Homo sapiens: one gene and its partners. The protein of the gene in region 2 purifies or fractionates together with the protein of the main gene of each other region. This does not show direct contact. Each region holds a gene or a part of one and is shown on either strand. Other genes may lie near its edges.

Region 1 (6,982 bases), on a different chromosome or scaffold from region 2:
TCTGGATGTCACCGAATCTCCTTGGATTGTCAACCCAATCGTACTCCAAATCTTCCATTATCCATCTTGAGGCACCTCTTAGAAAAAATAACACACTAAAAAGAAATATTTTCAACTCCAAAAAGTGTTGCTAAGACATATTTTACAGAAGTCTCTTCCTCAAAATCCTCTTTAATTGCCTTTGCTCTTTCCCCAGACTTTCTCTCCCCAAAATCGGGGCCATATTTCTTTCTCTTTCCTATTTCCACCAATTTTTCTGACCTCCTCCTCACACCTTCTCAAAATCCTACTTGCTTGTACCCAGCAGGACAAAAGCCCTGGAACACCTACTGTTCTTGAAACACAAGAAAGTGAAAAGAAAAGTCCCAGTTTACACAGGAATTTTAACAGAGTACTGTACTTTCAAAAAAGAATAAACCTGGCTGGGTGCGGTGGCTCACACCTGTATTTTGAGAGGCCAAGGCAGGCAGATCACCCAAGTTTGGAAGTTCCGGACCAGCCTGACCAACATGGAGAAACCCCGTCTCTACTAAAAATACAAAAATTAGCCGGGCCTGGTGGCGGGTGCCTGTAATCCCAGCTACTCGGGAGGCTGAGGCAGGAGAATCGCTTGAACCCGGGAAGTGGAGGCTGCAGTGAGCCGAGATAGCGCCATTGCACTCCAGCCTGGGCAAATAGAGCAAGACTCTGTCTCAGAAAAGAAAAAAAAATAAAATAAAATAAACCCAGTCTGGAAATTCTATCAGTTCAACTAATGAAGATATAAAGCACCTTCCTATCCAGTTTTCTCCCCTGCCCTGCTCCAAAGCCACTGTCATAGAGAACCAACATAACTGATAAAGAGTATGGTATATGGTATAAATAATGAAAGTAATCTCATATTTGTTTCCAATTGTAACTAGTGTACCATTATGTTCGATTAAGAGGCTAATTGGAATTCTGCATGAAAACATCATTGAAAAAGCACACACCAACCGGATGCAGTGGCTCACGCCTGTAATCCCAGCACTTTGAGAGGCCAAGGCTGGCAGATTGCTGGAGCTCAGGAGTTCAGGCCCACCCTGGGCAACATGGTGAAACCCCATCTCTACTAAAATACAAACAATTAGCCAGGCATGGTGGTGCGCGCCTGTAGTCCCAGCTACTCGGAAGGCTGAGGCACGAGAATCGCTTGAGCTCAGGAGGCGGAGGCTGCAGTGAGCCGAGATCAGGCCACTGCATTCCAGCTTGGGCTACACAGTGAGACTCCATCTCAAAAAAAATTAAAATAAAATAAAGTAAAAAGCCTGGTGGGGTGGCTCACACCTGTAATCCCAGCACTTTGGGAGACTGAGGCAGGTGATCACCTGAGGTCAGATGTTCAAGACCAGCCTGGGCCACATGGTGAAACCCCATCTCTACTAAAATACAAAAAAAGTAGCCAGGTGATGTGGCGCGCCCCTGTAATCCCAGCTACTTGGGAGGCTGAGGTAGGAGAATCGCTTGAACCTGGGAGGCAGAGGCTGCAGTGAGCCGAGATCGCACCACTGCACTCCAGCCTGGGTGACAGAGGAAGACCCTGTCTCAAAAAAAAAAAAAAAAAAAAAGCCAGGCGCAGTGGCTCACACCTGTAATCCTAGCACTTTGGGAGGCCGAGGCGGGCAGATTACGAGGTCAAGAGATCGTGACCATCCTGGCTAACACAGTGAAACTCCATCTCTACTAAAAATACAAAAAATTAGCCAGGTGTGGTGGCACGCGCCTGTAGTCCCAGCTACTCAGGAGGCTGAGGCAGGAGAATCGCTTGAACCCAGGAGGCAGAGGTTGCAGTGAGCTGAGATCACGCCACTGCATTCCAGCCTGGGTGACAGAGCAAGACTGTCTCAAAAACAAAACAAAACAAAAAAACCAGAAAGAAAGAAAAGAAAAGAAAAGAAAAGAAAAAGCACACAACTCAATACCCACTTTCTAAACCGTGTGATTTTGATTTAGTCTTATTTGATTATGAAAAGAACAGTATTGGTCAGGTATGGTGGTTTATGCCTATAATCCCAGCATTTTGGGAGGCCGAGGCTGGTGGATCATTTGAGGTCAGGAGTCCGAGAACAGCCTGGCCAATATGGTGAAACCCTGTCTCTACTAAAAATACAAAAATTAGCCAGATGTGGTGGCGCATGCCTGTAATCCTAGCTACTTGGGAGGCTGAGCCATGACAATCGCTTAAACCCAGGAGGCTGAGATTGCAGTGAGCTGAGATCGCACCATTGCACTCCAGTCTGGGTGATAGAGTGAGACCCAACTCAAAACAAAACAAAAGAAACAAACAAGAAGAACAGTATTATTTTAGGCCACTTAGTTTCTTAAAGTGTTCAAAATTCTTTATATACATCATCTCAATCTTTTGTCAACAGTAGGGCAGGTGCCAGAGGAGAAAAACTGAGGGTGAGGCAAGGGAAAGGAAGCCCCTGTGTAATTAGAGCAAACATCTGACGTCATTAACCCATGTATTCAACTAGACATTGGAATTTAGATGCTAAACTACCAAGAGGTTATCAACTGATGATCATTTGGTCCAGGATCAGTGATTTAGTATGACAACATTTTTGAACTTCAGGTGCAATTTGTCATTTTTTGATAAATTTATCTAGGGAAAAAAAAAGTTATTCCATAAAGATTAACAAACCACTAAGCCAGCAGGGTGAAACCAAGCTATGCATTAGGAAATACAATTCTAAATTTAGCACCCTAAATTACAGCAAGGAAAGCCCTCATACCACCATTCACAAGTCTCTGTTCAGGCAACTTATTTCTGGCAAGCTAAATCAAGGCTGTCAACTGGTTTTTGGTTTTTTTTTCCACCTCAAAATTACATTAATTATTCTGAAAAAAATACAGACATCTTCAACTTGGGGAAAGGTTACAAGTGCCGTGTGTCCTTATAAATGCTTATTTTAAAAAGTCACACGGAAGGGGGTAAAAAAAAAAAAGCAAACAAACAAACCCTGGAAGATTGGAAGATGCAGCAGAGCCCCCTTGCTCCCGAAATAAAACTCCTGGTGGCTGTAACAGCAGCGGCAGTGCTACTCCCGACAGAAGTTTTCAGCTGTCACTTCTAACAGCTGAGCGCTTCCTAGGAGAGAAGCGACAGGCCGAGAAGAGAGGTGGTTGTGGGAGGTCTGAAGATTCAATACTTGAAATTCTAGACTCGAAGGGAAACCCTCCACACTTCGCCTGCACTTACGGGACACCCAGCAAGAGCAGCCCCCGTCTCCCCAACACACGCTCACGCCACCCGCTCCCCGCCACACTCAAGTCCAACAGCTCGAGGAATCGACCACGCGCCCGTTCTCTTTCCCTCTTCAGATCGCTCGGGGCTGCGCTGACCTGGGGCTAAGGGTGCGACCTGCACCTGCGAGCCCCGCAGAGGCCTCACACCTAGGGCCATGACCGCCCCGCCCGCTCCCCTGTCTCAGGCCGCGCGACCCTCAGCTCCTCAGGAGCCCCCCTGGGTCTCCACGCTCTAGGACACACCGCGCTTCCTGAGCCCGCGCCGCCGCCCCGGCCCTGTCACCTCGGGCCCCCGGGGACCCCGGGCCTCACCCCCTCCTCCAGCTCATCCTCAGAGCCCGCGTCCTCTGGCTGGTCCAGGTCTATGTCAAACACTCCTGCCATGTCCTCAGCTTCCCTGTCTCGGAAGTCCGGGGCTGGGTAAAAGCCGTCCCGCCTCCTTCGTCGCCTCATGGGCCCGGACCCGCCGCAGCCACCACAGCCGCTGCCGCCATCACCGGCTGCTTAGGCTCAGTGCGTCTGCGCCTAGGCCTTAGACTGGCTCCTAAAGTTCAGCGTAGGAGCATGCGTACAGGGTTCCGTGAAGCCAAACAGTGGGCAGTGGACATGCGCAGAACTATCGGCAGGATCCAGGCGCTGGCAGAAACATGCGCAAAACACCAGCCGAAGTCGCGCTTGGAGGACTAGAGCATGCGCATTGTCAGCTGGAGCGTTCGGTGGACAGTGAGCATGCGTACCATATCTGAAGTTCGTAAATTGAAATTGAACATGCGTAATTAATCTTTCTGAATAGGAAAAAATATATACACAACAAAACTCTCCGTTTATGGAACATGCGCATTTGTTCTCAGTAAGTTTTTCGTTTTGAAAGTGAGCATGCGCATGGTGAGTAGGTTGGTCCGAAGTTTGAACCGGACAGAAGCGCTGGTCGGCGTCTGGCGGTGAGTCGGGTTACGTGTGGAGAACTCCTGGGGCCCGTGGGGAACGGGGGACCTTTTGGCTTTGCTCTTTACTAGTTCTGTGGCCTTGGAAAAGTCAATAACCTTTCAGAGCCTCAGTTTCCTTATCTGTAAAATGAGGATAATAATAAACCTACTTTGCCGGTTTGACATTTTAAGCACAGAGTCTGTCTCACAACCCACGGCTCATTTCCAGTGCTGCATAGACCTGATGTGAAGTCTTTATCAAAACTTGTCTTTTCCTAGGTAAAAATAATGAGGAACTGCTCTAATGTTTCTTTTGCTTTCTTTCTTTTTCAAATGGAGACAGGGTCTCGCTGTGTTGCCCAGGCTGGTCTGGAATCCCTGGGCTCAGGTGATCCTCCCGCCTCGGCCTCCCAAAGTACTGGGATTACAGGCATGAGCCATTGCGCCCGGTTAATATTTCATCTGGTTTTCTTTCTCCAAGCTGCATCTTTCTTGCTGTCCTACCTGAGCTAAACACAAAATCTTTCTTACAGGTCTTACTAAAGTTACCAGGCTAGACTAGTGGAGAAAGCGTAAGCTATTATTTAGAAGAGAGAAAATTAATGTTAATTGAATGTACAATGTTGAGCACACTTCTGTGTTCTACATGTTCATGTGGTGTGAAGGGTGGTACTACTAATTTCTTCAATCAGCATTTGTTTTGTCTTGTTTTTATTTTTTTAATTTTAATTTTTTTTTTTTCTGGAGACAGGAGGATGTCACTTTGTCACCCAGGCTGGAGTGCGGTGGCAAGATCTTGGCTCACTGCAGCCTGGACCTCCCAGGCTCAGGGGATCCTCCCACCTCAGCCTCCCGAGTAGCTGGGACTGCAGGCGCACACCACCACGCCAAGCTAATGGTTGTATTTTTTGTACAAACAGGGTTTTGCCATGTTGACCAGGTCTGGAACAGCCAGGCTCACGTGATTCTCCCAACTCAGCCTCCCAAAATGCTGGGATTACAGGTGTGAGCCACGCACCCAGCCTCTTTTTTTCTTTTATCACTCCTCAACTGAGGAGAATGTTTTGTTTTAAACATATGTTTAGGAAAAAAGTGATTACAAATCAGATTTTGGAAACTATTGAGCTGTGTATGAATGGATTCAGGTACAGTAAATCACAAATCCCAAAACCATGTAGAGAGTATGAGAACTTCCTTGAATGACTAGCTCCTTAGACAACACAGCTGTTCTATCTCCAATATTATATACGTATGTGGCATTTTAAAATGACTTTTTGGGCCGGGCGTGGTGGCTCAAGCCTGTAATCCCAGCACTTTGGGAGGCTGAGGTAGGTGGAGGTGGATCACGAGGTCAAGAGTTCAAGACCAACCTGGCCAACATGGTGAAACCCCATCTCTACTAAGAATACAAAAATTAGCCAGGCGTGGTGGCACGTGCCTGTAATCCCAGCTACTCGGGAGGCTGAGGCAGGAGAATCGCTTGAACCTGGGAGGCGGAGGTTGCATTAAGCCGAGAACATGCCACTGCACTCTAGCCTGGGTGACAGAACAAGACTCCGTCTCAGGGGGGAAAAAAGACTTTTTATTGATGTATAATTAACATACATGGCATTTTATTTGTTCTTATTAGTAATGTAGTGGTTCTCAAAGCGTATTTTTTTCGATTACAGGTTGTTTTTAGAGGTAATACACCTAGTTTGTGGCTCAGCATGTCAATTGTAACAGTGCAACTTGGTCAGTGTGGCAATCAGATTGGTTTTGAAGTTTTTGATGCTTTGCTTAGTGACTCACACAGTTCCCAGGGACTCTGCTCTATGAGAGAGAATGAGGCATATCAAGCATCTTGCAAAGAAAGATTCTTCAGTGAGGAGGAGAATGGAGGTAGGTGTGGCCCACAGTCCTCTCCTTTACTCTGATCTAACCAACCCCTTCAAAGCCAGGCCTTCCACATGGTTTTTAAACCCCATTCCTTCCCATCTCACTAGGGAATTACTTTGTTTTTGCTTTTCATTTCTATGTTAATAATCTTTGCTTTTCCAGTGGCATTTTCCCTTCTGCATGCTCAGATCTCACCAATTTAAAACCAACCAAACAAAACTCATCTATTGACTGGCTTTCTTCTTCTTATCTCTTTGCCTTTCATCTAAGATTCTCAAAAGAGGACCCTGCTGGCTGGGCGTGGTGGCTCACGCCTGTAATCCCAGCACTTTGAGAGGCCGAGGCGAGTGGATCACAAGGTCAGGAGTTCAAGACCAGCCTGACCAACATGGTGAAACCCCATCTCTACTAAAAATACAAAAATTAGCTGGGCGTGGTGGCATGTGCCTGTAATCCCAGCTACTCGGGAGGCTGAGGCAGGAGAATCACTTGAACCCAGGAGGCAGAGGTTGCAGTGAGCCGAGACCGCACCACTGCCCTCCAGCCTGGTGACAGAGCGAGACTCCATCTCCAAAAAAAATAAAAGGACCCTGCTTAACCACCTATGATCCTGCTTCTGCCCCACATAGCATCATTGAAGCTGCTCTAAGAAAAGTTTCCAGTGACCTCCGAATCACCAGATCCAACTACTGTTTTTCTTTTCTTTTTTTCTTTTTCTTGTAGAGACAGGTTCTTACTACACTATGTTGCCCAAGCTGGAGTGCGGTGGCTATTCACAGGTCTCCTGAGTAGCTGGGACTGCAGGTGCATGCCACCATGCCTGGCTCTTTCTTTTCTCTGTCTCTCTTTTTTTTTTTTTTTTTTTTGAGAGAGTCTCGCTCTGTCACCCGGGCTGAAGTGCAGTGATGTGA
Region 2 (7,121 bases):
CTCAACCTGCAAAGTGTACCCCCATCTAAAATAGTCACTCTGCCATCTTCTACCAAAACCACTTTCTCACCACCAGGCCACCAATTCCTCAGAGCTCCAATTCTTCCAAGAAGTTTTCTCTACAGTAATAAACAAGGGCATCTGAATAGGGGAATCCCATAACTTTCTCTTCACTTGCCCTTGCTCGCAACTTTTTATCACCATCCAGCTTAAGTACAAGCTTTCCAAAGACAAGGACCAAAATAACCTTAATTTGAAGAGTGCCAAGATTTGGCCACACATGAAGCAATATTCAGCAGCTTTTGGGGCTGAAAATCCAACTGCTACTTGTAAGTGCTTGACAGCACTGGCTTCTTGACTTTTGGGGAGAAAAGCACTGGCACTACAGTAACACTACATTTACTGAGAGTTCTTAAGCACAATGCAAGAAGAGCTTGGAAGCAGCTAACCACAGATTCCCCAGGTTCCCTATGCTTTGCAGGCCCTGAAGAAACAGCAGGCTGGGTAGAGAGCATCTATGGGGTGGAAAAGGTGGCAGAGCTGGATTGAGTCAAGCCAAGACAAGCAGGATAGGTCCTCTTCTAACAGTTCCCCAGCAGCAGGCACTGTATGCAAAGTCCAGTTTCCATCCCTTAGTTACTTTCAACCTCGCTCCTTTTTTTTATTCCTCTAATAAATAAGAAACAAGGTCGGGTGCGGTGGCTCACGCCTGTAATCCCAGCACTTTGGGAGTCCAAGGTGGGTGAATCACAAGGTCAGGTGTTCGAGACCAGCCTGGTCAACACGGTGAAACCCCGTCTCTACTAAAAATACAAAAATTAGCCAGGCGTGGTGGCGTATGCCTGTAATCCCAGCTACTTGGGAGGCTGAGGCAGGAGAATTGCTTGAACCTGGGAATGGAGGTTGCAGTGAGCCAAGATGGTGCCACTGCACTCCAGCCTGGGCAACAGAGCAAGACTCCATCTCGGGAAAAAAAAAAAAGAAAAAGAAACAAGAGCAGACTCCAGTAATTGGCCACAGGTATAATGGAAGGTTTTGGAATTTCAGCTTACTGATCTTCCTCTTCATCCTACTTTAAAACTTTCACTAAGCATCATTAAGCTTAATGGCTTACAAAACAAGTGTGTCTATGCCAAGGCACACAGCGCTCAACGCCACAAAGGCAAGGACATACATTTTATGCAAGCTGTACCAACATCACAGGACTGAGGTTTCAGGGGACCTTTTCACCTCTCTTTCGATTACAGAAGTATTCTAGAATATCAGGGGCCAATTTGAAGACAGGAAGACTCTTGGAGATAGAAGTTTCACATTCCAAAAATGGGGAGGAGATATCAAGAGCCAATACAGCAGGGAAACGTCAATCTGACAGAGGAGGGGTCAGTTCAGGGAAAATCCAAGTGTGATGATCTAGAGCCCACTGGTGAAGTTTTATCACGGCAGAGAATGGCGGTTCTGATCCCTAGCTGTGTGAATGTGAACCAAAGCTCTTACGGAAGCCCTGGCAGCGGGATGGACTGATTTCAGAGATGAAAGGAAGCAAACAACCACCTCGCCGAGTAAGAGCTAACATTGCTGAGTGCTTACTATCTGCTAGGCACACTGACAAACTGAGAACCAGAAATTAAATAACATGCTCAAAGTCACACAGCTAGTAAGTGGCAGAGCTAAGTTACAAACCTAGGCATTCAGTGTAGCTCCAGAGGCCTTACTCTCAACTGCTGTACTATGCTGCCTCTGCACAGAAGATGAAGACGACTTCAAGAATGAGCAATGCTAGAGACATAAAGGGGAGAGGAAGTACTGTTAAATGCTAATTTCCTTCTACCTTGGGTACAAGCGGGATTCATAGGGCATTTGGTAGAACACCTAAAAGGTGTCTGCGTCCCTAACAGGACAGAGAAAAGCTGCAGGAAGCAGGAAAAGAGCAGAAGATAGAGTCGGACAGGCCAAAATGAATAAGTGAACTGCCAAGTGCACAGAAAGCAGTATCTCAGTCAGGGTCAAACACCACCTCGGAAGCTGGCCCTACTCAATAACAACCCAGGAGATACCATCGAGGCTTGGGACCCACGGAAAGTATCTAAAGCTCCGAGAGACAGAGAAAAGAAGTGTGGGAAGTAGGGCTACAAGGAGCACTTTAGGTGGCTCCAGGACTCACAGCAACTCCCTCGCCCCAAATTTCAAGAAAACGAGACCCAGAGTTAGGTAGCCAACTAGAAAAGCCTTTCTTATGTCACCAGAGTCCGAGCCTGGGTCTTCCCACCTCCGATACAGTGTCTCCATCTACCTTTCCCGTTCTCCTGGCTGAGAGGCTGCAACCCCCAGCAACCACCAGGGCCTGGTACATTCAGTAGGCACTAAAGACGCGTTTATTTAATGACTGAGCGAATGAGTGAATGAATTAAAAGTACTAGGGAAGGCGTCTGCTTCTCTGCACGCTGCGGTGAGGGTCAGCGAGTGAACATAGTGAGTCCCTAGGCGGGCACAATATGAGGTCCCCAATGTGCCTGTGCCGGTTCCAAGAAGCACACGTCTTTACAGCCCGCAAATCTCAGAGCAGCCCCAGCTTCCAAGTCTAGCTGCCGACCGCGTAACCACGGCCGACCTGCACTCGTTTCACGCAAGTCCCGATCATGCGGGGCTAAAAAAGAGGTCCCCGACGTGGGTTCGCGGGCCCGAAGCACCCTGGGACTTGTAGTCCCCAACCGGCCAGCCCAGAGACTCCTCTAAAGCCCCACGCAGCCCTCGCCAACGGCTCCAGCGCCGTGCTCGGGCCGAGCCAGGCCGCGGCTGGCTGGGGTCGCCCCTAAGCTGGGGATCTGGGCGAGGACAGAGGCGGCAAGCAAAAGAGGGTCCTACAGAGCAAGCCCAGGCCGAGCGGCGCCGGCCACCGGCCAGATGGCAGCTGATGGCGACGGATGCGCGAGACGCCACTCACCATCATTTTGGAAGCTTATTCAGCGGCCCGCCACTCTCCCCTCTTCTCCGAGACCGGGCCGCCCAGCAACCCACAATGCCTCGCGCAATAGAAATACCCAGAAGCTTGGGCCGGGAGAGGAAGAGAACGGACCACTTCCGCTACTCTATGGTTCGTTACCACCGACTCGGTGCGGCTAGAAGGACCTGAGGCTGGGCTTCGGGGACTCTCTAGTGAGGGGCGTTCATTAAAGAGGGGTCGCCGCATTTCGGTCGTGCTTCTTAGAGCACGGAGGGTCTTTGCTCGGCCCGCATCACCTACTAACTTAATTCCACCCTCCTCCATCCCCGGACGCCAGACCAAGGAATGCAATAAAGGCAAAAGTGTGGGACGCAAAGTGTGGGATAGGCTGGTGCCAAAGCACTTTACGTGAGCGATCTCATTTAATCCTCACAACCCTATTGCGTTGGTCCTATTAAGGCCATTTTACTGATGACAGAAAGGAGGCTGAGAGGTCAAGGTGTCCAGTGTCACAGTTACATAGTCAGTGTCAACGGGACGAGCGTGGGAAGCTGCCCCCAATGCCCGTTTTCTGGCTTTGCACTGGCCAGAGGCTCCTCGTGGATGGCGTGCGCCAGGCCGCGGCCCCAGCGCCTATCCACGGTGAGCGCGCAAGCGTTGGTGGCACTGGGCGGAAGACCCCCTGGCGCAAGACGAGTGCCTTCCCGTGAAGGCGTGGGGAGGAGGGAAGCGCAGCTGGGAGGAGGGAAGCGCAGCTGGGAGAAGGCTAATCGTCGTCAATCGAGGCGGCCTTGGAGTGGACAGGACCGAGACCGCAAGGGTTAACGGCCTCGACTATCGACAGCTGAAGCAAGTCCGGCTACGGGCACACCTCCAGTGCTTGTCCTCCCTGGCCCGCCCACCGCCAGCGAGGACCCGGAGAGTATGCTGGGGCGGGGCTGAGGCGAAGGCCGGTTGTAGCTGTTAAGAGTTTAAGCCAATCAGCCCCCGGCTCCACTTCTCTCGACCAATAGGAAGTAGGCTAAGGCGCAGAGGCGGAAAGTGTGGCTACATGAGCAGGCGTCAGAGCCAATCAGCCTTGAGCCTCGTTCCCGTCGTCCAGCCCGCGGCGAGAGCGGGTATGTGGGCGGGAGGCCGGAGCAGCTGTCAGGCTGAAGTCCTGCGAGCGACGCGCGGCGGGGCGGCGAGAGGAAACGCGGCGCCGGGCCGGGCCCGGCCCTGGAGATGGTCCCCGGCGCCGCGGGCTGGTGTTGTCTCGTGCTCTGGCTCCCCGCGTGCGTCGCGGCCCACGGTGAGCGGCAACGGGTGGGACTGCGTTGCAGGGCGGGGCTGGCCGTCCAGCTTGCGCGCGTCTCGGGTTGGGGGCCAAGGGTCACCTTGGGGACCCTGCGAGTTCAGAGCAGGACAGGTCTGGGAGCGGGCGGCCGGAATAAGTGGGTGGTGGTCCAAGGACATAAAGTGGGCGCAGCCTGAGGCTGAAGCTCTGACTCCTCACCTTCCCACGACAAAGCAGATCTCCCCACTCGCCCCTCCCCGCCCACTAGCGCCGACCCAGGTGACTTAGGGTGCGACCAGAAGGGACAGCTAAGGAAGGATACTACAGGCTGGAGATATGTATGTGAGCATTCACATGTACACAGGAGCACACATTCCTACACGTGGGCACACACGCACAAACCGTTTACACCTACACAAGCACATAAATGTATACATCTATGCACATAAGTGAGCACATACGTATACCCACAACTTACACAAATAAGCACACACAAAGGCAAGCAAGGGTTGGGGAGGAGGGAGTGAGTTTGACGCTAGTCCAGGAAGGCTTTCTGGGGGTGTATTTGTATCCGAGAGGGAGTCCCCACTCCCAGGACTGTATAGCCCAGTGCCAAGCCATGGGAGCTCTAACTGATGGCTGTGATTTGGGCAGTAAACAAAGACAGCTAAAGCCTTAATGCCATCCTTGGTACACAGTAGTGACTTGGTAGTTTGTTGATAGACTAACAGACTTGTGACAGCAGTTTTCTTTTTTTCTTTTTTTTTTTTTTGAGACGGAGTCTTGCTCTGTCGCCCAGGTTGCAGTGCAGTGGCCCGATCTCGGCTCACTGCAAGCTCCGCCTCCCGGGTTCACGCCATTCTCCTGCCTCAGCCTCCCAAGTAGCTGGGACTACAGGCGCCCACCACCACGCCCGGCTAATTTTTTTGTATTTTTAGTAGAGACGGGGGTTTCACCGTGTTAGCCAGGATGGTCTCGATCTCCTGACCTCGTGATCTGCCCGCCTCGGCCTCCCAAAGTGCTGGGATTACAGGCGTGAGCCACCGCGCCCGCCCATGACAGCAGTTTTTATCTTTCAACATTCCGCAGTCTCTCTGGGTTAAGGAAACCAGGGACTCAAGTCCAGGTACAACATTAAACTTTGGTGCTGAGGAGAAGATCCCATGCCCCAGAAAAATCTAGTGGTCTGGAAATTCTCTTCATCGGTGCTGTGGAGCTAGATATAGTTGTTCACCCATTCAGGAAAGTTTATAGGGCTATCCCTATATTGTAGCCACTGTGCAAGACACTGGTGACTCTTCACTGAATGAAGTTACAAAGTGGAAGAGGCAGATATTTAAAAATTATGAATCCAGGGCAGGTGCGGTGGCTCACGCCTGTAATCCCAGGACTTTGGTAAGCCAAGGTGGGAGGATCACAAGCCCTGGCAACAAGGCGAGACCCCATTCCTATTTAAAAAATGAAAAAAAAAAATCAGCCTGGTCAACATGGCGAAACCCTCTCTACTAAAAAATACAAAAAAAAATTAGCCAGGCATGGTGGCGCACGCCTGTAGTCCCAGCTATTTGGGAGGCTGAGGCATGAGAATCGCTTGAGCCTGGGAGGTGGAGGTTGCTGTGAGGCGAGATGGCGCCACTGCACTCCAGCCTGGGTGATAAAGTGAGACCCTGTCTCAAAAAAAAGAAAAAGAGGCCGGGCGCGGTGGCTCACGCCTGTAATCCCAGCACTTTGGAAGGCCCAGGCGGGTGGATCACGAGGTCAGGAGATAGAGACCATCCTGGCTAACACGGTGAAACCCCGTCTCTACTAAAAATACAAAAAATTCTCCGGGCGTGGTGGCGGGCGCCTGTAGTCCCAGCTACTCCGGAGGCTGAGGCAGGAGAATGGCGTGAACCCGGGAGGCGGAGCTTGCAGCGAGCCTAGATCGCAACACTGCACTCCAGCCTGGGTGACAGAGCGAGACTCCGTCTCAAAAAAAGAAAAAAAGAAAAGTTATGAAAGCTGTATAATTACAAATTATGTTGAAAGTCCCCATTTATTAAAAAGTACATTTGAATGGGTATGGGAGGGCAATCATGAGGCAGAAGCTTTCTCTGAGGAAGTGACATTTAAGGTGTGACCTGAAGGATGACTAGGAAAGAGTCAGGTAAAGGGGTGGAAGTAGGGTGGCGTGGGAGTAGGGGGCCTTCCAGGCTCAGGGAACAGCCTGCAGAAAGACCCAGAGAAGTGAAGACACTGAAAGGCCAGTGTAGCTTGAACACAGGATGGAGGAGATGAGGTTGGAAGAGTGGCCAGGGGCCACAGCAAACAGGGTCTTGTAGGCCACAGTTTAAAAAGAGTTTAAATTTTAAATGCAAAGGGCAGTTATTGAAACCCTAGGTATGGTGATGTGCTCATAATTGCTAAGATGTTTTCGATTTCTGGTTGTTGCTTGGGGAGCAAGAATGGAGGCAGGGAGGCCAGGTAAGAAGCTGAGCTGTCAGGACAAGAGATGATAGTGACTAGACTTAAGGGGATGGCAGTGGGACCAGAAAGTCAACTTTTAAATTTTAGTGAGAATTGCTTTGTACGCAGGCCACTACATCTCTACCCTGAAACTCCCAGGTCTTCAGAGCAAAAATACTAACCCTGGAGCTCTCAGTTTTCCTGGCTTACTGCGTAAGCAGCAGCAGCAGCTGATATAAGCCTCTGGGGTTAATGACTCTGCATCAACTCTATCCTCCCCAGGACAGAGGCCATCTAGCCCCCAACCCTGCCACTAGTGGACCCCGTTGGCTGAAGCCAGGACCCTGAGCCCAGACTATAGCCAGCCCAGCTGAAGACACAGGGTCTGGGATCTGAACCTGAACCAGCTTGTTCCTGGGAGGCTTCTTACCTGTACTCTTTATCCTTCAGGCTTCCGTA
Region 3 (7,022 bases), on a different chromosome or scaffold from region 2:
TTTAGACTTAGTCATATGGATTTTTAAGAGTTAAACATGGATGACAAGATCTATGAATATATGTAGAAAAATCCTTAGGAATCTACAAAAAAGCTACTAAAACTAATAACTAATGTAGCAAAGTTATAGAAGCCAAGATTAATGTACAAAAATCAGTTGTATTTCTATATACAGTACCAATGAACAATTGGAAATGGAATTTAAAACAGTTTCATGGTCAAGCACAGTGGCTCATATGTGTAAGCCCAGCATACTGGGAGGCCAGAGTGGGTGGATCACTTGAGCCCAGGAGTTCAAGACCAGCCTGGGCAACATGGCAAAACCCTGTCTCTACAAAAAATACAAAAATTAGCTGGGTACGGTGGCTTGTACCTGTAGTCCCAGCTACTTGGGAGGCTGAGGTGGTAGGATCAATTGAGCCTAGGAGGTCAAGGCTGTAGTGAGCTGTGATTGAGCCACTACACTCCACCCTGGGTGACAAGCAAGATCCTATCTTAAAAAAAATAAAACACAATTTCATTTATAATAGCATAAAACTTGTGTAGAAATCAAGTTAATGGGCCAGGCGCAGTAGCTCATGCCAATAATCCCAGAACTCTGTCAGGCTGAGATGGGCAGATCACTTGAGGTCAGGAGTTTGAGACCAGCCTGGCCAACATGGTGAAACCCTGTCTCTACTAAAAAATACAAAAAATAAAAATTAAAATTAGCCAGGCGTGGTCACGCACGCCTATAATTCCAGCAACATGGGAGGCTGAGGCAGGAGAATTGCTTGAACCTGGGAAACGGAGGTTTCAGTAAGCGGAGATCATGCCCCTACACTCCAGCTGAGGCGACAGAGCGAGACTCAGTCTCAGAAAAAGAAATAAAGAAATAAAATTAATGAAAGAATCATAAGAAGTACACTGAAAACTTTAAAACATTGCTGAAAGAAATTAAGGCAGCCGGGCGTAGTGGTTCACGCCTGTAATATCAGCACCCTGAGAGGGCGAGACAGGCAGATCACTTGAGGCCAGGAGTTAGCGACCAGCCTAGCCGACATGGCAAAACCCCATCTCTACTAAAAATACAAAAATTGCCTGGGCGTGGTGGTGCGCACCTGTAGTCCCAGCTAAGGCATGAGAATCACTTGAACATGGGAGGCAGAGGTTGCAGTGAGCCAAGATCGTGCCACTGCACTCCAGCTTGGGTGCTAGAGCGAGACTCTGTCTGAAAAAAAAGAACTTAAAAAAGGCGTAAATTAATGGAGAAATGTGCTATGTTTATGCGTTGGAAGACTTAATATTGTAAGATGTCAGTTCTCCCCAGACTGCTCAATAGATTCAACACAATCCCAATCAGAATCTCAGCAGGCTTTTTGTAAAATTCGACAAGCTGATTGTAAAATGTACATGGAAAAGCAAAAGTAGAGAATAGCAAAACAATTTTGAAACAGAAGAACAAAGTTGGAGAACTCACTGTCTGATTTTAGAACTTACTAGAAAGCTACTATAATCAAGACAGTTTGCCTACTAGCAGACAGATAGGCAAATAAATAATGGAACAGAATAGAGTCCAGAAATAGATGAATAAATACATGGTCAACTGATTTTCAATAAAGGGGTCAAGGTAATGCAAAGGAGAAAGAATTCTCAACCAATGATGCTGGAAGAGTCAGACGTTCATATGTAAAAAAGCAAACCTTGTTCGGGAGCTGTAGCTCACGCCTGTAATCCTAGCACTTTGGGAGGCCGAGGCGTGTGGATCACCTGAGGTCAAGAGTTCGAGACTAGACTGGCCAAAATGGTGAAGACCCTTCTCTACTAAAAATATTAAAAAATTAGCCGGGCGTAGTGGCACATGCCTGTAGTCCCAGCTACTTAGGAGGCAGAGAGGTAGGAGAATTGCTTGAACCAAGGAGGTGGAGGTTGCCGTAAGCCAAGACTGTGCCCATTGCACTCCAGCCTGGGTGACAAGAGCAAAACTCCGTCTCAAAAGGAAAAACAACAACAAAAAGCAAACCTTGATTCATATCTTGTACCATATAAAAATTTAACTTGAAATGACTCAGAGACCTAAATATGAAGCCTAAAACTAGAAAACTTTTAGAAGAAAACAGGGAAAAATATTTGGGACCTGGGATTAGGCAAAGATTTCTCAACTAGGACATAAAAAATTTTTTGGGTGCGGTGCTTACGCCTGTAATCCCAGCACTTTGGGAGGCCAAGCCAGGAGGATCACTTGAGCCCAGAAGTTCGAGGCCAGCCTGGGCAACATAAGGAGACCCCATCTCTACAAAAAATTTAGAAATTAGCTGGGTGTGGTGGCACATGCCTGTGGTCCCAGCTACTCAGGAGGCTGAAGCTGGAGGATTGCTTAAGCCCAGGAGGTTGAGCCTGCAGTGAACCACGATTGCACCACTGCACTCGAACCAGTGCAACAGAGTGAGACCCTATCTCAACAACCCAAAATTATACTGCCACATTGCACATAATGCAATATTATTCAGCAGTAAGAAAAGAAGCAACTACTGATACACACAAGAACATGGATGAATCTCAAGAGCAGTGTACTGATGAAAGTAGCCAGACACAAAGACTCAAGACCATCTGATTCTATTTATATCGTATTATGGAGAGACAAAACCATAGATCAGTGGCTACTTGGGGTAGGTATGAGGGGTTGACTGCGGAGGAGCCTGGGAGAGCTTTCTGGGTTAATGGAAATGTTTTATATCTTACTGTGGGGGTTATACAACTGTACATTTGCCAAAACTCATTTAACTGTACACTTGAGTGGGTTTTATTATATGCAACTATACCTAACTTTGGGGGGAAAATGTCTGGAAGATACTGGTGTGTCTGAGACTGAGGTCAGAAAGATGAGTAGAAGGAATTTTATTTTGTGTTGTCTGGTTAGTGCTTTTCCCCTTATTGTGGATGTTTACCAAATATCCCCACTATTCCATCTTCCAGTTGGAAGTTCATAAGCAAATGTACAGTTAGTGTCCCATTGAGCCAGATTGAGTTTGACAGCAAAGATTGGAAGTTAATGGTGGGCTAAAATTGACTCTAAGAAAAAGTGATCAGAGCTAGGTGGGACTTTCTCATCAATGGCGCCGACTTTTTTTTTGCCAGTCACAGTGGTTTGGGCTCTCAAACGGTCATTTGACATACCTTTATGTGTAAACATAATGAGCCAGTGTTGAGTTTGGGGTTGGTGAGGGTTGTGCACTATTGGATTTTTAAGTGAGCATTAGTTTGTTTAATGAAATTGCAAAGGGTGTTTCATATTCCTGGCCCCTGAGCACCAAATGTCCTCAGCACTTCAGTCATTGTGGCAGCCAAGAACCACCCCTGGTCATTTTCAAATACCTTAGGGGTTTCAGGGGAAGGTGTGCCTGGCCTGGCAGATAGTGCACTTATGTAGTTGGAGTCAAGAATGCAGACTTGAGTCAGAAAACCTGTAATCTCTGTCTCCTACTGGCTTTGCAGTGTTGAGTGTAACCACCCCTTTGAGTCTGGGTGTCCTTGTCTGCCAGAGGATGGTTGGACTAGATACCCTCTCATGGCAATCGTTTTTGATTCTGCAGTTTAGTGTAGTACAGTGTCAAGACTTCTGTCACTGGCCAGGCATAGTGACTCATGTCTGTAATCCCAGCACTTTTGGGAGGCTGAGGTGGGAGGATCAGTTGAGCCCAGGAGTTCAAGGCCAGCCTGGGCAACATGTGAGGCCTTGTCTCTACAAAAAATGAACAAAATTAGCTGTGTCTGGTGGTGCATGCCTCTAACCCCAGCTACTTGAGAGGCTGAGGTGGAAGGATCACTTGAGACCAGGAGGTGGAGGCTGCACTGAGCTGTGGTTGCACCACTGCACTCCAGCCTGGGCAACAGAGCAAGATCCTGTCTTTAAAACAAAAAACAAACAAAAAAAACCTCTGTCACTGACCAGGGATCTAATGTATTTGCTGTACTGCTCACAAATGCTTATGTGGCTCAACTTTGGTATGTTACAGGTTCAGCTTGTTGGTTTAGATGAGGAGAGTTCAGAGTTTATTTGCAGAAACACCTTTGACCACCCATACCCCACCACAAAGCTCATGTGGATCCCTGACACAAAAGGCGTCTATCCAGACCTACTGGCAACAAGCGGTGACTATCTCCGTGTGTGGAGGGTAAGCGGATGCTTTATTAGCAGCCAGACAAGTGGGCTTTCTCAGCCTCAGCTGTTAGCAGTGAAAAGTCACAGAACAGACAGGGGTCAGAGGCAGCGAGTGTCATTGCAGCACAGGAGAAGCAAGCGAAGCTTAAATGGACTGGCCTCGTTTGGCTCAGCAGATTTTCTAGTATATCAAGTCAAGATTCCATGAAGTCTGGCTGCTGGCTGCAGTCAGCTCAGTCAACCCGAGGTGATGATGACGGCCTTCAGTGGAGGTGGGAATACTTGGGAACTCATATTCTGTTTGCAGCCAAGGTATTTTTGAGTAAACTAAATGAAATACCAGGCCATTGATTCTGATAAAGTGTGTGAGTGGATCTTGGAGGCTTCCCTCCACCCTCAGCTGAGCTCATCAGCAGCAGCGTCCTCTGTAGCATGGGCGTGGCCTTAGTACACCTGTGCAGAGGTTCCAGGCTGGGCAAAGTGAGAAGACCTCTCCTCTAGGAAGGTGCAGGGATGAAAATGTAGAAAACAAAGCTGGGCAGAGGAGAAAGTATGGGAAAAAGTAGCATTCAGGGAGTCCTGGGTTTATTACTGTTTTTGATAAAAATGTTTTCCCCTCATGTCTTATGTTTGCTAAGATATTTTCTAAACAGGGATTTTTTAAAAGACTTTTTATGAGGATAAGACTGGCTGATTTTTTTTAAAATTCTTGTTCCTTCAGGTTGGTGAAACAGAGACCAGGCTGGAGTGTTTGCTAAACAATAATAAGAACTCTGATTTCTGTGCTCCCCTGACCTCCTTTGACTGGAATGAGGTGGATCCTTATCTTTTAGGTAAGGGAGTTAGGGAGTATGTATTTCAGCTGGAAGAAGCCAAAATAAATTTTCTCAGATGTCACACTGGGCCATACATCCTAGAACAAGGCTCAGTGGGAAGTAGGCTAGGCGTGGAATGTGGTTATTTATTAATTCCTTTGTGTGGGTGAGCTTTCCGTGTGTATAGATCTTGTCTCTCCAGTTAGAATCTAAGGTCCTACGGTGAGGACTGAAGACTTGACTGCCTCGGTGGCTCTGCCGGTAGCCCCCACCTTGTTTTCTGTAGTCTTTATGGTATGCTGCTCCCTGGGCTGAGCAGATGAGTAAACACAAGAGGGAAGCTTGCATGAGAACCTTGGTCCCGTCAGCCCTGACTTGCACTGGTTGTTTGCAGGTACCTCAAGCATTGATACGACATGCACCATCTGGGGGCTGGAGACAGGGCAGGTGTTAGGGCGAGTGAATCTCGTGTCTGGCCACGTGAAGACCCAGCTGATCGCCCATGACAAAGAGGTAAGATGCTTTTCCATTTCGTCTTTCCTCAAATGCTTCCTGTGCCTTCCGCACAGGAAGAGGTCAGCTTGTTCTCTCATTGTTCTGCAATTTATGTAGAAAATCATAACATAACATCTTCTTGTCTAAATTGACAATAGTAATGTATCAAAAACGGGAAAACAACACTATTGTAAACTAATGCTTTTTTTTGGCTAATGTAAATGACCTATTCTACGGTCTGTCATTGTTCTTTTCATGCCAGAGGTTGCTTTTTTTAAATAACAAAGTCTCTTATAGAGGAGCTGGGAACTGATGTGATTAAAAAATAACTTTAGAGTAATACTTATCTTGAAACAGATTAGATTTGGGGAGGAAAGAAGGGAGACAGGAAGAGAAAAAATTTTCTGAGAGACAAACGTAATTATTCATTTTTCTCTATAAATGTTTTACCAAATCCTAGTATGTTCACTTAATCTTTATACTTTCATTACTGTTGGCAGTGGAGGCAATGGAATATATTTTATTTTGATGGCGATGCTTCTGTGTTTATTGGGAAAACTGAGAAGAGCTATTTGTGATTGCTTTTTTTTTTTTTTTTTTTTTTTTTTTTGAGACAAAGTTTTCCTCTTGTTGCCCAGGCTGGAGTGCAATGGCGCAATCTGGGCTCACTGCATCCTCTGCCTTCTGGGTTCAAGCAATTCTCCTGCCTCAGCTTCCGGAGTAGCTGAGATTACAGGTGCCCGCAACCACCCCTGGCTAATTTTTGTATTTTTTAGCAGAGACAGGGTTTCACCATGTTGGCCAGGATTGTCTCGAACTCTCCTGACCTCAGGTGATCCACCCACCTTGGCCTCCCAAAGTGCTGGGATTACAGGCGTGAGCCACTGCGCCCGGCCAATTGCATTTTAATCAAAGCATTCTTCTCAGTGATTTTGGAAAATCCCCATAAGTCTTTTCCTCCTACAGCCATTGCATGCTCCTGGTACTCTCATCTCCTGTGGGTACTATTTCCTGTTCTTTTCTACCTTACCCTGCACAGCTAGGGGTATTAATATCTATACAGATAAAAGGAATGCCTTGATCTTAGGTCAGAAACTTGAGGTTGTCAACAGCATAGGAAGATGTGACCCAGGTTATCATTCTTAGTAAGGGGTTGTCTTTGGCTTTCTGTACTCCTGAAGGTAAGCCCTGTTACAAGACTTCTAGAGTTGACTGCTGCTAAACCAGGGGTCAAATGAAGAGTTTGTCCCACAGAGAGGACCAGTAAGGAACTTCTGGAAACCCTCTTGGCATCAAGTTGAACAAGCGGCTACATTTTAGTTATATGACAACTTAGCCTGCTGTTGTCTGTTAGGTCCAACCCAGAAAATGGGAACTACTCTTAAGTATTTGAACTGCAGGGATTTAATCCAGGGGCTGCTTATACAGAAGATGGTAAAGCTGAGAAGCCACATAGGTAGCAGTGAGGTCATCCATAGAATGGGAGCAGCAGGAAGCTGCAGCTGCCTATAGGCCAGAGGGACCATGGGAGGAGGCAGGGTTCCTGGAGCCCAGGGGCTGGATTTACCTGGC

The links. The genes of interacting proteins can lie anywhere in the genome.
Region 1: the proteins of CCT7 (region 2) and TUBD1 purify together in Homo sapiens (co-immunoprecipitation; 4 studies listed by BioGRID and IntAct, with this or other methods). This does not show direct contact.
Region 3: the proteins of CCT7 (region 2) and DCAF7 purify together in Homo sapiens (affinity purification with mass spectrometry; 5 studies listed by BioGRID and IntAct, with this or other methods). This does not show direct contact.

Annotation. Positions count from the first base shown.
Region 1 is NC_000017.11:59,889,923-59,896,904, reverse strand, and holds the start of TUBD1 (tubulin delta chain), read left to right. Parts: upstream 1-3,961; 5' UTR 3,962-4,208; intron 4,209-5,863; 5' UTR 5,864-5,902; coding exon 5,903-6,074; intron 6,075-6,982. Other genes in the region: RPS6KB1 (ribosomal protein S6 kinase beta-1), read right to left, coding at 3,580-3,720. UniProt on the Homo sapiens protein: Acts as a positive regulator of hedgehog signaling and regulates ciliary function.
Region 2 is NC_000002.12:73,230,205-73,237,325, reverse strand, and holds the start of CCT7 (T-complex protein 1 subunit eta), read right to left. Parts: upstream 3,019-7,121; 5' UTR 2,948-3,018; coding exon 2,942-2,947; intron 1,777-2,941; exon of another isoform or gene 1,681-1,776; intron 1-1,680. Other genes in the region: PRADC1 (protease-associated domain-containing protein 1 precursor), read left to right, coding at 4,166-4,232, 7,113-7,121. UniProt on the Homo sapiens protein: Component of the chaperonin-containing T-complex (TRiC), a molecular chaperone complex that assists the folding of actin, tubulin and other proteins upon ATP hydrolysis.
Region 3 is NC_000017.11:63,574,476-63,581,497, forward strand, and holds part of DCAF7 (DDB1- and CUL4-associated factor 7), read left to right. Parts: intron 1-3,994; coding exon 3,995-4,153; intron 4,154-4,861; coding exon 4,862-4,973; intron 4,974-5,349; coding exon 5,350-5,468; intron 5,469-7,022. UniProt on the Homo sapiens protein: Involved in craniofacial development. Acts upstream of the EDN1 pathway and is required for formation of the upper jaw equivalent, the palatoquadrate. The activity required for EDN1 pathway function differs between the first and second arches.